2 separate regions of the Homo sapiens genome follow, and region 1 is linked to region 2. A link means that fine-mapping ties the variant in region 2 to the expression of a gene that starts in the linked region. Tissue or cell type: adrenal gland. Region 2 holds a variant in brackets; the other region holds the start of a gene. All regions are shown on one strand. Distances are from middle to middle.

Region 1 (8,098 bases), 320 kb before region 2:
AAAAGGCTGTGCAGTCTTTTACAAGCATTAGTGGCCTTAGTGGCTCCATTACAGTCAACAGCAACTGAAGTTATCATCTGAGTGAGCCAAAGCTGGAAAGAAGGGAAATAATAGATACCAGAGCAGCCAAGAGGGTAGTACACGGAGTCCAACCAAGCCACCCCTAGCAGGCCCTTAGAATAGATTGAGGAGGACTTTGCAAAGCACCTAGTGCTCTCTCACGTGAGGAGAGACTGGGCTTGTCTTATTCAAATTGTATCCCTCATATCTTGCGCAGTGGAACAGGACTGCAAGGCTGCACAGATCCCAGGGTCACTGTTCATGCAGTTGCCTATATAAATAGAGCCTTCTGGAGTTGTGTAACAGGAGCTTTGCATAGATGTTCAATCAAGATAGGTTAAAGGCAAAAATGAAACAGTAATTGCTTAGCTGCTTCTGTTAACATTATTCTAAAACTCAGGTTGGGGTGGCCTGAGCAGCAGTGGCTCCCATCAGATTTGGGTTTGGAGTTATCATCTGGGTAGTAGTGTGGCACATAATGTAGTGGAATGGATCCAGGATGCTCAATTAGAACTGCAGTGATTGGGTGGGTGTTTTACTACTTTAGTTCTGGAAAAGTCCTTCAAGGAACTGGAAATAAATGCCAAAACTACGTATACAGTCAGTAGGCAGGAGCAGCCAGGTGGAGAGCTAGGGGCTAACACTCATGAGGTCACTGGTGGCAACTAATAAGAATACCCCCATTACTCATTCTAAGGCTAGCTCTTAATCCTAGGCAAAATGAGACTGAGGGACAAAATGAGAATTAATCACCAGAGAGCAGATAAAGCTGATTCATTTCTGAGCTGGAATAAAATAAATACAGAAAACTTGGTTACATAAATATTAAACAATAAAACCTGGAATAGAAATCATCCTCCTTAGAAGAAGATGGAGCCTAAAAAGAAGGCATCCCTTTGAGCCCAAGGTTGCTGTTGGTGGAAGTGGCAGCCTTAGCATTCAAGAGCCAGGGAACATCAGACATTGTAAGCGTCCACAGACTTGCATGAGCTGAAGAAGACCAAGGTTCATGATCTGCTCCTTCGACACAGTGGTGACAATAGAAGAAATATCTAGTAAACCTGAAAAGCACCTCAAGAGGGACCTGGAAAACAATCTAAAAAGCCAGAGAAAGCTACAGTTGAAGGCAGTATAGAGTTAGATTCAAGATAGAATCTAATGTTCATATAGATCCTCTTGCATCATTAACAGATGTCCACACAGGACACAGGAAGTGCACGGTTTTGATTATCAGTGTATGCCAAAATAAACCAATTCCTGTATGTGGAGGACAGACAGCTGTATGAAGCAGGATCCTCAGTGTCTTCAGTTGGCTCCATTAGACCAGTGGATTCACACCTTCCGGCAGCTGCCCCATCTCGAGGGCACTGGACATGCTGGATTTGGGGAGACTGTTATGCGATCTCAAACCATTTGTAATGCTAAGTACCATATTATGGGGCCACTGCACATCCATACTTTGTGCCTATACATTGGGAGGCACTGGGCTCTGGGGAGAGACAGATGGTTTTCAAGAAAAGGCTCTTAAACCCAGAGAATGCTTCTTGTCTACAGCCACTGTCATATCATTCTGACTTCTCAGTTCCCTCACTTTCCCTCTCCTTTCAAATATTTTTACTTTCCAAATCAGACAGATGTTTTTTGCCAGTACAGAGGTATATCAGTCATCACCTTCTCTCTCGGATGTAATAAGTTGAATTGTTTGTTTTATATATTTTTGTAGCTTAGATGTTGACTTTATCTAAAGGGATATCCTGGAAACAAACATTTTAAAAATATAAGTACAGAAAGGTAAGCATGCTATTAGCAATTTTTAAAAAACTTTGCCTGTGGTTACTATCTATATATAATTTGTCCTTCTATTGTCTATCAATGCCTTCTAAATGCACCATGAGTACAGAGAAAAAAACTGTCTGTGTGCACCTGGGAGAACTTGCTTGATGCCCCGGCCTCAGTTTACCACATCTCCAAAACCAGTGGTTCTGACAGCCAGAGTATCTTCCAGGTCTAAGAGATCACAATCATGTATCTTATATAAAGACCGGAAATGCCTAGAGTGTACAGATTTTTAAAAAGTAGTATGAGCAGAACATCACATAAACAAAGCTTCAGTCACATATGAAGAAGTAGTAGGGTGGATTATTTTCAGGCAAAATGAACTGATTCCTTACAAAACAGTAATAATTATCCAAGGTAGAGAAAATAATTTTGTCTTAAAAACCAATATCTTGATTTACTTTGGAAGTTATTTTAGCTCACTTCATTTTTTAAAAAATCTATTTTTTTCAATTTGGTCTAGCAAGGTTTTATTTTAGGAATAGTGAAACTGACAGGAGGTAGTAGAAAGCCATGCATTAGTGAAACCCAGGCCCCTTACTTCCTTCATCTTTCACCTGCACATTTCTGGCACTTCCCATCTCGGAACTCTCTTGCCTGAACCACCTCTCCACACTCTTGGGAGTTAATAACTCCACGTAGACAATTTTTCCTCTGGAGGACAGAACTGCTACTTCTTCAAAGCTTTTGGGGCTCCCAGATGCTGCATAGTGGGGGTGCCTAACATTCATCTCTAAGGGTGGCTGTTTTGGCATCATTTTTGGCTGAAGTTTTGTATTGCATTTCCATGTCATTTGGTGTGGTGTGTGCCTGCCAGATATTCTGCCTGCTCTCAGCTGAAGGCCTTCCCAGATTGGGCAGCTGAATGTACTGCACAGCTGCCAAAATTCTAATTCAAGATCTAGAATTCTAACTCCTGCTCTTTAGACCCTTGTCTGGCCTTGGCCTCAGTCCCCTGCCAACTCGGTCCCTGGCTCATTATCAGGCCCACCAGGGCCCTGCCCCCACCCTCATTGGGCCCATGAAACCATTCTTGGCACCAAACTGAACTTCAAGACACAGCTGCCCCAGCCCCACCCAAGCCGAATCTCATCTCAGCAAGTTTGTCACCTTGTGAGCTGCAAGACAGAAGAGATGAGAAGAGAAAATGCCACCGGTGATGGTCAGATCATAAAACTTCCTGTAGCAACAGACATATTACATGTGCCTTTACTCTAAGCACTTACATGAAAAGCAAACAATCCCATTATTAGAAATAACACTAGACAGAGATGCATAGAGTTTATGGAGGGAGGAATACTATTTCTCCATGCATCTGCACCAGAGGGTAAGTGAAATTTGCCCTAAGGAAAAATGCTAAATTCAGTATGCATATATTAATATTAATAAAAAAAATGTACTGTTGGGTCATAAACTGCTGATAATGTGTAATATTTCTTAGACACCTGGAAAAGTGCTACTGGAAAATACACACTTTACAGAAGAAATATGACTGCAACTGGAGGAGGGGGTGGGGACAAGAAAGTAATTGATTCTCAGCAAAATGCTGGTTTTCAGGGAAGCTACTAAATTCACCTTAAGTGGTTACCTGGTCAACATTATGCTTTAAATGCTCACAGGATGAAATCGCTTCCTTTTTAAATGAAGAGTCACTATGTCCCTTGCCGTTGTTTCCGCTCCTTCTAGCCTTAACCAATGCACTGTCCTTTCTGCAGTGGCTGAAACGAGGATGGGTTAATTACCAGACCTGAGATGGTGGAGTGGGTGCAGTAGGGTGCTGTAATTTCGGGTGATGAAATTATTTTAGTTTTTGTTTTCCTAGAAGGAGCAGGGAGTATAAAAAACGTGGCACATATGTAAAACACAGGCAAATGCACTTGACAACCAAGCACTCTATTTTGAAATTTAAATAAAGCTAAGATTTTTTTCTGGCCTAGAGGGAAAGCTTCATTAAAATCAATTAGTTAGTACAAACCTCCGGAGAATGTGTACTTTTTCTAAAGAAGGTTTAAAGAAGAAGGTGCACACAATTACCTTTCCTGGGTCCCCTGTGAATGTGTCACACCTAGACAGGTGGCTGAGTACAAAAAAATGTCCCTGAGAGGGACCAGGGTAACTCCCTGAGTTCTCCTCGCAGGGAGGTAGGTGTAATTAATCGATGTGGGTGTATTAAGAACGTCATATACATAACCAAGGAGGCTCCAAACAGATGGCACGGATGGCAAGCCGTAAAGGGCAGGCCTAGCGAGATAAAGTTGGTGGCAGGGCTCGCAGGTGAGGCCTGGGTCCGCGCGCTGAGGTTGGGGCCGCACAGCTGTAGCCGCGCGCCCTGGTCCCTCCTCCCAGCTGCGGCGGCCTTCCCCCCCCGCCCCCGCCCCCGCCCTCCCCCCGCCGCTCCCGACGCCGCCGCCGCAGCCGCCGCCTCCCCTCTGCCTCCCGGTGGCTCCTCGCTCTCCTTCCATCTCTCTCGCCCCCTCTCCCTCCGTCCCGTCCTCGCCGCTCCCCTCACCCCGCCTCTCTCCCCCTCCCCCAGCCCCTCCTCTCCTCACCCCACCCGGCCTCCCTCCCTCCCTCGCCCGCCCGGCGCTCGCAGAGCCGACACCAGGGGGGCTCTCGATGTAGCACCATGACAGGCATCGCCGCCGCCTCCTTCTTCTCCAATACCTGCCGATTCGGGGGCTGCGGACTCCACTTCCCCACCCTGGCCGACCTCATCGAGCACATCGAGGACAACCACATCGGTAAATGGCCCGGGGGTGGGCGGGGGTGCCAGGCGCGCGGAAACTCCTGCCCGGGCGGGGAGCCCCGGAATGGCCAGGGGTGGCCGGCGGGGAGGGAGGCGGCAGGGCGGGGAGGGCGCGTGCGAGCCCCGAGGTGGGGGTGGCGGGATGCGGGGGCGCGAGGTGCCGGGGGGCGGGGAGCGGGCTCGGGTGGGGGAGGGGGCGGGCGCCCCGAGGTGCCGCGGGCGGGCGGGCGGGCGGCTGGGGGACTCAGGGGCGTGCACGCGGGCTGCGAAGTGGTGGGAGCGGGGAGCGCCGCGGCGGGGCGGCGGGGTTGCGGCGGCGGGGCCGAGTGCCGGCGCGCGGGGCGCGGGGCGGAGGGCGCGGCGGGCGGCGGGAGCTGGGCGCTGGGCAGGGTCGCGGAGTTAGTTGGCCCGGGTGGTCGGAGTAGCCCGAGGCGCTGAGGGCAGCGGGGGGCGGGCGCTGCACGCCGCCGGGCGCTTCCGCCCCGGCTCGAGCTGTCAGGGCTCGGCGGCGGCTGCAGCCGCGGGGAGGTGGAGCGGGGGGGCGGGGGTGGCTCCACCGCGGCAGCCATTCCGCTTCCTCCTCCCGCCGCCGCCGCCGCCACTGCGTCCTGTCAGCGCCGGTTGCTAGGTGTGGTGCGTCGGGAGGGGGCCGGGGCCGGCGGCCGCGGGCGGGGGCCGGGGAGCTTGCCCTCTCCCTGGGAGGCGGCCGAGGGGCCCGGGCGGGGCCGGGGACGCGGGCCCGGGGGCTCTGGGTGCCCTCCCCTGCCCCGGCCTGGCGCGGACGCCCGGGCGCTGCGGGCTGAGGTCTTGGGTGCGCCCGCGGGCCGCGCCCAGCGCCCCGGGGTCGACGCGCCCTGGAGGCCCCTGCGGCGGCGCCCGCTGGAGAGACACCCCCAGGGCCCATGGCCGGGCATTTAAATGCACCCCGGCTCTGCGATTTGCCTTTCTAATGGTGCTAGGCCCGAGGTGCGCTGGCTGCGCCCTGGGATCGGCGGCGGCCTGCGCAGCGCCCCGGGCCCGGGAGACGCCGGGGAGGGGGCGCCCCGCAGGGTGGCTGCTTTCCCTTCACGCCTGGACCCCTGGACCTTTCAACAAGTCCTCTGATTTGCAGAAGTCATTGCACACATTTTCACACTTCTATTCGGAACCCCTGCTAAGGGAGGTGGGCCGGGTGCATCTGGCTTAGGCGGTCCAACCACCTGCGGAAGGTGTGACCGACGCCAGCGAGTTGTCCTGCGTGGGCTAGAAGGTGAAGGGTCCGAGCGATGTCCCAATGGGGCTGTCTAATCCAGAGAACCTGTAAATTGCCCCCAGGAAGTCCAAATGAATGCCATGGATTCAGCCATGTGGATGCAGCTCACGTTTCTACAAAGTTGAGAGAATAAATCACGACTGCTGTGTATTTATGCAGGAATAAAATGAGGCAGAACCCTATGCTCCTTTGCTTAGTATAGTGCTGTCTCTGCACACAGTGGCTGCTTAATAAGTGTTGAATGCCTGTTTAGAATGTGATTTGATGGGCCATCCGGAATAGGAGATAATCATGGGAAACGTCTACAAAATGTCTTTCAGAGGAAAATGCTGTTGAGTAATTGTCCAGGTTTTGAAACTTTTCAAGTTTTCAGGCGTCCTTGTAATAGCTTCTTCCATTTCCTCTGCTAAAGGTATGACAGAAGAGCTGGGCAAGTTTTGGTAGTCTTAAAAGCAGTTTAATGGAGCAACCAATTTGCTGATTCATATCATGATTGAATAGTCATAACTGAAAGTGCTTGAAAGTATTAAATCAGATTTTTCATGATGGCTAGTTTAAAATAAAGCGAAAACACCGGTACTGTGAAGTTCTGGTAGAAATGTTACTAGTTCAAGTTCTTCCCCTTACTCCCAATAATAAGTAAAAAATAAATATAGATAATGCTATACATTAATATGTATGATATAAGTAATATAAATAAATAATTTCTCTTGACTTACAGAAGGCTGTCATTGCATATCCCATCCATTCTCGCTAACAGTTATTTCAGAATAAACTATAATTTATATAAGCTGAGTAATAATTTTACCCCATTGCCTACCTACTTAGACAAGCTGGTTAAAAGACAGTATAAATTATATTTATTAAAATGTGTTAAAGACAGTTATCCTTCTTGAGGATTTAGTTTGAGATGGTTTAAAACTTGGTGAATCATGAGGTTTTTTTTTTAAGTGTAGAAATTGTCTTAATATTTTGCACACATTTTTAAAGAAGGTTAAGAGTTTGATACGTTTTCTAAAACTCAGCTTTGAAGTAATGCTACCTCATTCCCAGAAGGCTAGTGTTGTCCTTTTAATAGTGAAAATGTGGAAAAATTAAGTTTACAGCAATAGCAGTGACCTAGGTGAACTGTGTTGCAGGGCTAACACAGTTGAAAACAGTTTGAACCAGCAAACTTTATGAAAAGCAAATGTTAAAATGAACAAACACTTGCAATTCCCAGGATGAAGAGGCTCAAACTATTATACACTTCTGCTGGGGAGAGGCCCTTTACTATCAAAGGCAGCCCTATATGCAGAAAGAAGAACTGATCTTAAGAAGAATAAAAATATCCCAATTAGTAGATAGTGTCATATAAATACACTTCTGATGAAAAGACATGGGTGAAAATATAAAGCATTTAGTCAAAGTTCTAGACAGGTATTGTTATGTGGTATTTATCGTTTTTGATTCAATCTATAAGTATTTGGAGACCGTTAATGATTGACTTACTGATTTCATGTCTGTTGGTGAGTGGTTACATTAAAAAGATTCATGAAAAGAATAAGAGGTGTGTTATTTTGCTTTTAATTTGTTCAACAGTCTTGTTATTTAGCAACCGTGAGTATTAGAGATATGCTTAGGTGAGCATTCCATTTTGGGGGCCTATCTGGGTTATTACCTTTAGCCACTAGTAAAAACCCTTAAACAGCGATAAAATGAATATTTATGGGAATATGGTGTGTTTCTTGCTTGGCAGATTTTTCAAGGCCTGTGTTTTTCATTATAAAAGTATTATGTTTAGTTTGGATTAATTAAGTGCATTAAGTTGAGAATAACTCTCTGTTATCTTATATGTGTATGCTTAACTTTTGTTTTTAACTGTTTTCCTCTCCCCATAATGAACAAGGATTTGGGGGCTTTAGAACCAAGGGAAGTGTGATTTTCACCACCCACTTTTTTAGCTCTTTTCTCTCCTGGAAGAGTGCTGTACCGGTGTTCCTGTTTTCTTTCTTGCATTTCACTGCTGGTTCAGTACTGGAGTACCTGTCTCAGTGTATACACTGAATATCCTAGCTAAAACTCTCCCCCATCCCCACTTAAATTTAAATTGCCGAGAAATCCCGTAGCCCTGCAACTGTGAAGTGCTTTTCCATCAATTTTGTTATCAATTCATTCATAGGTCTGAGTCTGTTACATGGAGATGGGAAAAGCAGGTCCAGGTT
Region 2 (8,107 bases):
CAGCTTATTTTCTGTTGGTGCATTTTCATGTCATATGCTATGTCTTGGAAGAGACAATTACTCTGATGTAGTAGAAACTGGTTTTGGCTGGCAGACCCTAATTATTTCTCATCTTGATCATTGCAACATTTTTCTCTATATCAATCATCCTCCCTTTCCCAGCCCTCCTTTTGAGCTTTCTCTTGGCATAAAAATATCCACCCTGTCTGTAGGTGTACCCTCTATAAATATAGCACATTTTATTTCACAGTTAAGAAGGAAATCATCATACCAAAACAAGCTCCGGCGAGGGCTGCCGCAGTGCAGACACAAGCAGCAGTTGGTCCAACAAAGACAGTACTCACTCTCACTGCCTTCAGAAGTCATGTCGTTAAGAGTGAGGCACTCCCTTAGTGTCTGGGCCATCTCCAACCTTGCATTCCTCCACGGTGTGATGCAGTCTGCCCACCCAAGTTCTGCATCGTGCACCTCGAGGCCAGAGAGACAGCGTGTCTTCTTTATCCCCAGGTCTCCACTAATGTGAATGGATTAATGAAAATAAATTCAGCAATATAATCCTAAATCAGCACATTATGTTTCTCCAACACCGTTAGGAAGCAGTATGGTAATCGAGTGTGTTCGAAATGTAAACTACATTTTAGACATTTTAGTCCACTAATTATAGGCAGATAATTCGAATTAGATTATTGTTAGGCCTTTGTGGTTCCTTGGTCGTTGTTCAAATCCAGACATTTAATTTAAAAATACTGATTAACAGGACTATAGCAACCAACACTAATATAGTGTTAACTGTGTGCTGGAAGTCAACCTAAATATGCTTATGAAACCACAGAATCTTCACCACAGCCCTGTGAGGTTAGCTCTAATATTACTTCCATTTTACAGATGAGGAAATGGAGGTGTGGAGAGGTGAGATAACTGTCAGAACAGAGCAGAATGAAGCACAGGATGCCTGCTCCCAAGTGCCTCTCTTAGCCACCTCACCATGTGGGCTCTGGACAGTTGGGTTGAGTTTGTGTCTTTGTGTTCATCAGGGTTAATGGAAGGATGAAGCCGTTCTGTGTGCACCTTTGCACATTGCAATCTGGCCTATCATCATTGTGGCTCCTTTCATTTTATCATATAGAAATTGTAGTGTCTGTTAAGTAAGCAAAATTACTAAGTACAAAATATCCATACTACATACAAATGCCTACGTGCACTGTGTCACAGAGCACCATCCTTTCAGTGCCGGCAGTGCTGCCCTCACTCGATGAAGACGAGCTGAGGTTGTGCTGCAAGACTTGAACCTGTCTGCGAACCCATTCTAGGTAGCAGCCTGATGACGGCCTGAGTAAGGAGTTCAAAGTGCCGCATACATGATCATTCTTAGTCCAGCAGAACAGCCCCAAGTGACTTGTGGCTGTTCCCTAGAACAAAGTCACCTGCTCAGAAAGCAAGGGTGGACTGCCCTTGAGAATATTCACAAAGAATGTGCCCCGTGTCCTAAAGGATACTGAATCAGCTGGGAATCTTCTGCATACTGTCCATCAATCTGTGTATCTGTCACTTTCGTGTCTGTGGCTGTCAGCTCCCTTCTACTTGGGCCCTTCTGAAGCTACGGAAGTTGGATTGGCAACAGCTCTGCTCCCCGGTTAAACTTCAGGTTCCTGGTGGGGAGGGCTGGTGGGTGGCACTCACTGTACTCCTAGCTAACACAACATCTTGTCGATGGTCGCCAAAAACTCCCCTTCTCTTTCTCTGTTAGCCTGTTTTATATCCTATTTAAATGTTGGATACCATTATTCAGTAGTATGTTTTTTCTGGGTTAAATGTTGGTTCTTTTATAAAGAAATCCTATAAACTAGATTCTGATGGTTAAATATGGCTTTAAAGATTTTTACTGTTTGAAGTAGTAAGAACTACATTTTCTGTGAGAGAGCACATACACCCCTGAAACAAAAGCTTCATGAACACATCTCTTTTGTCATTGTTTTCTGTTTGGAGACAGGGTCTCACTCTGTCACCTAGGCTGCAGTGCAGTGGCACGATCATGGCTCACTGCAGCCTCAACCTCCCCAGGCTCAAGCAATCCTCCTACCTCAGCCTCCTGAGTAGCTGGCATCACAAGCGTGTGCTACTGCACCTGGCTAATTTCTGTATTTTTTGTGGAGACAGGATTTCACCATGTTGCCCAGGCTGGTCTTGAACTCCTGGGCTCAAGCGATCTGCTTGCCTCAACCTCCCAAAGTGTTAGGATTAACATCTGTGAGCCACTGTGCCCAGCCCATGAACACACCTTATACTCTGATACTCTCTATTCCATTCTGTCCCTTTTCAAATGCTCGTCATGCCCCATTAAATTGATCTCACAACCTACTCCTGGGTCACGGTCTGCAGTTTGGGAGCACTATTCGAGACTCTGGGGGAAGCAGGTCCTGTGAGGGAGCCCATTGCCACAGAAAAACTTTATAGTAAATTTCCCCAAGTCTGTAGCAACATTGAGAAATGTTGTTAAGGGAAAATAAGTCATTTTGATCTCCCCAAGAGGGAAGTAGTGGGACTTCTGACTTGGTTAACGGATGGGGAAAGGTGTCTCTCTGAGCTCCCTGCTGTCCTGAAGAGACGTTGGCATTTTTCGTTGCTCAGTTTTTCCTAAAAATGTAGGATTTTTTTTTAAGAAATGAGACCTGAAACAACATATGGGAACAATAAAGGAGATGATATTTTCTTGGTGCTACTCAGGTGGTTTCTTTCTCTTCTAACCAAGCTGGGAGAGCAGGGAACTCAGGTACCAGGAGAAGTCAGCTTGACCGGAGCCCTCAGCAGGGAGAGGACTCCTGCTAGGGGGGCAGTAGGCTCTGAGCCGGGCAAACCCATGGGTTTTGACTCCAAACTGAGTAGGTGAGCAGAGGGCTGCTTTGAAGTCTCAAAATGAAAAGAAGAAAAGGATGAAGGGGCCTGGCACTCTAGGGTTAATGAGAAAGGGACTGATTTTTCCTAGGGTGTGCATTTTTTTCATCTTTTTCTGAGAATGTGCTTATTTAAATACATGCAGAATTTCTTGTTATGGCTTTGTGGAATTGTCTTAAAATCTGAATTTCCAGTTTTTAGAAGATGTTGATTTGAATAGCTTTGATCTTGACCTCAAATTAAATCGCGG[G/T]CCATGGAATTAGGGTGACATTCTTCCTTCTTCCCTGATGCAGAGTGAGGGAGCCAGGGGTGAGTCACAGCCTCCTCTGTGCATCATTAGCCCTTAGGATGACGACGGTCTCGTCACAGCGGCCAGGCGGTAGTCAGGGCCCTGCGCTCCTGGTGAGTCCGGGCTCTGTTCACAAAGCTGGCGGCTTGGAGGAGGCAGCCCCTGCATTCTCCTGTGCTCCTCTCTGGCAGTTGACCTAGCGGGAAGTGCCACTGCCCACAAGCATTCCATCAACTTGTGAGTTTCACTTCTTTGCCAAAAACTGGCAGAGAGAAATGTGACAGGGAATTGAACTTAGGCGTTTCATTTGCTGGAAGCTGAATCTCAGGTAGGTGACGTTTTTGTGTGTCTTCGCTATGCCTTCCTCCCTTGAGCCTTGTACTTGGATTTCTGTTCCCCAAGGAACCACATCGCGTAGTCACAAGACAGTGGCCTGGGGGTCAGGAGGCCCTGTGTTTGCACATTGTCTCTGCCTCTGATTTATTTCTTCAACAAATATATATTGAGTGCCAATTGTGTGCCAGTCACTTTTAAGGATACCAGGAATTCAGTTTTGCAGAGCTTGCATTCCAGTGCTGGGGGAAGAAGGATGGCAAAGACGAAAACAGCATCATTTAGAAAGTTAGCTGCACTATGAGGGAGATACCCAGGTACGGAGGTTGTGCCTGGGCAAGGACGGGCTCCCTCGGCAGGGAGGTGATCAGGGCAGGCCTCCTGGGGGAAGTGACATTTGAGCTGACATGACCTGAATGCTGAGCAGCCACCCATGAGAAAAACTGGAAGAAGAAAGTCCAAGGAGAGGGCACCATGGGAAGAAGGCCCTGTGGCGGGGACAGGCTCAGCATTTTATAGCCACCGGTCTCTAATTCAAGAGCAGGGAGAACAGGGTCATCAAAGGGACCCCAGCCAGATGGACATGGAGACATACAAGTGTCATAAAAGAGAGGGAAGGATAATGATGGGCAGGGAAGGAATAGACAACGAAGTAGCCGTAGGCAGAGAAAATAAATCTGCATGTTCACCTGAAATAACATTTTGAAGCACATGTTGATGTTAGCATTAAATTGGAAATGTCAGTAGTGAATTCATGATCCTAAAGAGAAGCCCAGACAGCCCTGTCCCCAAGGCAGGCCGGAATGGTGGCCCTACCCAGAAGCAGCCCTCACATGGGACCATCGGGCCCCACAAGCAGCACCTAGATTTTGGTCTCAGTGCTGTCCTCTATTTAAAGGAAAGGAGCTGACCCCATGTCTTAGGGCAGGAGTAATCCAAGACAGGCCTGGAACTTTTGTTCTTGCTAGAAAAAAGAATGATTTCAAAGCAGCCAGGGAACTTCCAGTTTAAAAAGGTGATGTGAACACGCACATGCACCCAAAATACAGAAAGCGGGGTTTCAAAATCATAAGCCACAAAGATAAAGATAGAGGTGAGGCAGCAGCAACAGAAGCGTGGAAGCTGGACAGCAAGTGGAAAAGAGGTCACTGACTTAGCAGACTAGAAAAAGCTGGAACTTAAGCTGAAAAGGGTGAGCTCAGAGGTGGGCTGATTCACATTCAATAATCCCAGAAAGCCTCCAGATCTGGAGCAACCTAATAGGTACGTGGTCTCTCTTTGGAGAGATGAAAATGGTCTGAAATTGTTTGAGATGATGGCTGCACTACTCTGTGAATATATGGAAAACCTTGAGCAGTACGCTTGAAATAAGTGGATTGTATAGTATGTGAATTATACCTCAGTAAAGCTTTATGTTCATTGGGTACTCATGGACATAAAGACGGCAGCAGTAGACACTGGGGACCTCTGGGGCGGGGGAGGCGGGAGGGGACAAGGGTTGAAAAGCTAACTATTGATTACCATGCCCAGGACCTGGGTGATGGGATCAATTGTACCCCAAACCTCAGCATCACACAATATACAAACCTGCATGTGTACCCCCTAGATCTAAAATAAAAGTTGAAAATATTTTTTAAAAAGTAAAAATAAATCTGTTCTATTTTAAAAATGGAGCTACAGATACCTCTGAATGTGGGAGTACAGATAAGGCTGAAGTCAGGAGAACTGGCTGAGAGTCTCCACGGGATGTCCCTTCCTTTCCCCCTCTGTATCCTCCCTAACTCTGCGAGGCCAGGCAGCTGCCATCCCTCCCGTGACAGAGCATGGCTCTGGAGATGCTGAACCAGAGCTGCCAGGCAGAGCCCAGGGTGAGGGCACAGTTCTTAGAACAGGGAGGCTGAGGAAGAGACTCCATCCTGAGTGGTAGAAGTCCAGTGCCCTTTCTCTACCCACAGCCACTCACACCACCCAGGATGGTCAGCCCAAGGGGAAAGGACCTGTGAGGTGGTCCCCCTCCAGGTTCACTGTGTGGACCTTCACCATTTGATAGACCCACCTATGCACCAGAGCATCCAATCTGCTTTTTATGCCTCACTTTTAAATATGAGCAGACAGACAAGGATCCTCAAGGTTTGGGAATGGCTTCCAGGACAGACAGTGTCAGAGACCAGATTAAAGAGGAAAAAAGGCACACCGGAGAAACAGTGACAGTGCATGGGGCAGGAGAAAATAAAAACAACAACCTTCTCCTTACAGAGAGAAGAAAGCTTTGTGCATGAAAAAAAAAAGAATAAAAAAAGTAGTCTTTGGAAATTAAAACAGGTGATGGCAGAAATGAAAACATTTATAGAAAGGACAGAGAGCTATTTTAGAAAAATCTCCCAGAAAGTAAAAAGGAAAAAAAAAATCAGAGATTTAGAAAACAGAAGTGATAAGAATATGAGAGGATTAGTCCAGGAGGTGTGTAACATTAGAATAAAAAGAATTCCCAGAAAGACAGCTAAGAGAGGAAATTATAAAAAAAAAATTTTTTTCAAAGAAATTTCCCAGAACTGAAGGGCGTGAGTTTCCAGGTGGATGAGTCCCCCGCACAGTAGTAAAAGGATGGCAGGTGGAAGGACAGAGAGCAGCGAGAAGCTGAGTCTCCCAGGAGGAGGACACATCTGAGAATGGGAGTTAGTGCAGCTCAGGACTCGTGGGCATCGACCTGAGAGTAGAATGAAGACGTCCTCAGACATTCAGGGACTCCAGATTTTACCTCCCATGACCCAAGCAAGGGGTGAACGAAGAAAGAGGAAGACACAGAACCTTGGAACAGGCATCGGCCCCATGTGGGGAGAGGAAAAGGGAACTGCTGGGACAGTGGAGAAGGGGAATCCCAGGATGGCAGCCATGCAGGGTGGTTCTGGAGTAGAAGGACAGAGGGCACCAGGTGCCCAAAGACTGTCTCTTAGGAAAAAGGAGGGACGAGGGGAGGCAAAGAGGAAAGTGGGGATGGGGGGAACCAGAATACCTGGGGGCTTAAACACACTGAGAGGAGGCTTACAGTCCATCTGAGGGTCAGGCTGGATTCAAGTATGCAGTGCAGTACGCTGGCTGGGAACACAGACCCTGGCCAGCTGGGAACCCTTGCACCCCACGGAGGAGCTTTGTGACCTCTGACAAGATACTCTGCCTCTCTGGGCTTCCATTTTATGTAAAATGAAGATAATCTTAGTACTCACCTAAAAGGGTTGTTGTGACATTTAAATGAGCTAATAGATGTACAGCGCTTAGAGCTGTGCCTGGCCTGTAGTGAGCCCCAGATACACATCAGCTGCTCATGCAGTGAGGAGGATGAGGAGGAGGATGAAGATGAGAAAGATCACAACAGAGGTTGTGGAGATGGTGTTGAACTCCAAGGAAGATAAAGATGTGAGCTTGGTTCATCCCATGGCTCAGTGTCATCATAGTGCAACATTGAATACTAATGAAGCCAAATACAGGAAGGCCTCACTTAATGTTGTCAAGAGGTTCTTGGAAATTTTCACTTTAAGTGAAATGACATATAACAGAACCAATTTTCCCAAAGGCTAATTTATACAAAGAGAAGTTAAGTTCCTACAGCATATTTCTGATCACAAAAACAGCAAACTTCTAAATAAAGACCCAAAACACTTCTAGTATTAAACATTAAAATAAATGTGAGCTATCATACATTTAAGAAAATTAATTAAACAGGATAATTATTTACCCAAGTTTTGATGCATCAGTGAGTAACAATGGTCCTCTTGGTAGTGGGTTAAATTAAGAAATAAATGTGTGACTATTGTAAGGAGCACCTCCTCCCACCACAGTTCAAAAACCAGCAATAACAGATGTGGCAGGCTCGCTGAGCACTTTTGCACATCATCATTTACTGTCGTGCACTTGTACAATTATCGTAGACTTTACAGACTTTTATTTGATAATTTGTATTCATTTTCTTTTTTTATTATACTTTAAGTTCTGTATACATGTGCAGAACGTGCAGGTTTGTTACATAGCTATACACATGCCATGGTGGTTTGCTGCACCCATCAACCCGTCATCTACATTAGGTATTTCTTCTAATGCTATCCCTCCCCTAGCCCCCCATGCCCCAACAGGCCCCGGTGTGTGATGTTCCCCTCCCTGTGTCCATGTGTTCTCATTGTTCAACTCCCACTTATGAGTGAGAACATGTGGTGTTTGGTTTTCTGTTCCTGTGTTAGTTTGCTGAGAATGATAGTTTCTGGCTTTATCCATGTCCCTGCAAAGGACATGACCTCATCCTATTTTATGGCTGCATAGTATTCCATGGTGTATATGTGCCACATTTTCTTTATCTATCATTGATGGACATTTGGGTTGGTTCCAAGTCTTTGCTGTTGTAAACAGGGCTGCAGTAAACATACATGTGCATGTGTCTTTATAGTAGAATGATTTATAATCCTTTGAGTATATACCCAGTAATGGGATTGCTGGGTCGAATGGTATTTCTGGTTCTAGATCCTTGAGGAATCACCACACTGTCTTCCACAATGGTTGAAATAATTTACACTCCCACCAACAGTGTAAAAGCCTTCCTGTTTC

Alleles and levels. Alleles are on the strand shown, and positions count from the first base shown. SD is a standard deviation of normalised expression in the study named.
For the expression in adrenal gland of the gene that starts at base 4,305 in region 1, G is the high allele of the variant in region 2 and T is the other (moderate effect, 0.43 SD a copy in GTEx).

What was found. PIP is the estimated chance that this variant, and not a neighbour inherited with it, causes the effect.
Region 1: JAZF1 starts here. The variant in region 2 is fine-mapped to the expression of JAZF1 in adrenal gland (GTEx, PIP above 0.99).

Annotation. Positions count from the first base shown.
Region 1 is chr7:28,177,002-28,185,099 of GRCh38, reverse strand. JAZF1 (JAZF zinc finger 1) reads left to right here and starts at 4,305. Exons shown (of 5, transcript NM_175061.4): 1 at 4,305-4,637. The coding sequence starts at 4,523. JAZF1-AS1 (JAZF1 antisense RNA 1) reads right to left here and starts at 4,643. Exons shown (of 4, transcript NR_034097.1): 1 at 4,561-4,643. RefSeq lists a silencer at 5,111-5,230 and enhancers at 5,085-5,584, 5,585-6,086.
Region 2 is chr7:27,859,247-27,867,353 of GRCh38, reverse strand. The region is part of intron 3 of JAZF1 (JAZF zinc finger 1); the gene reads left to right. Among named protein-coding and RNA genes, the nearest start is that of TAX1BP1-AS1, 120 kb to the right of the region's middle. RefSeq lists an enhancer at 2,806-3,306. The variant G/T (reference allele first, on the strand shown) is at 3,143.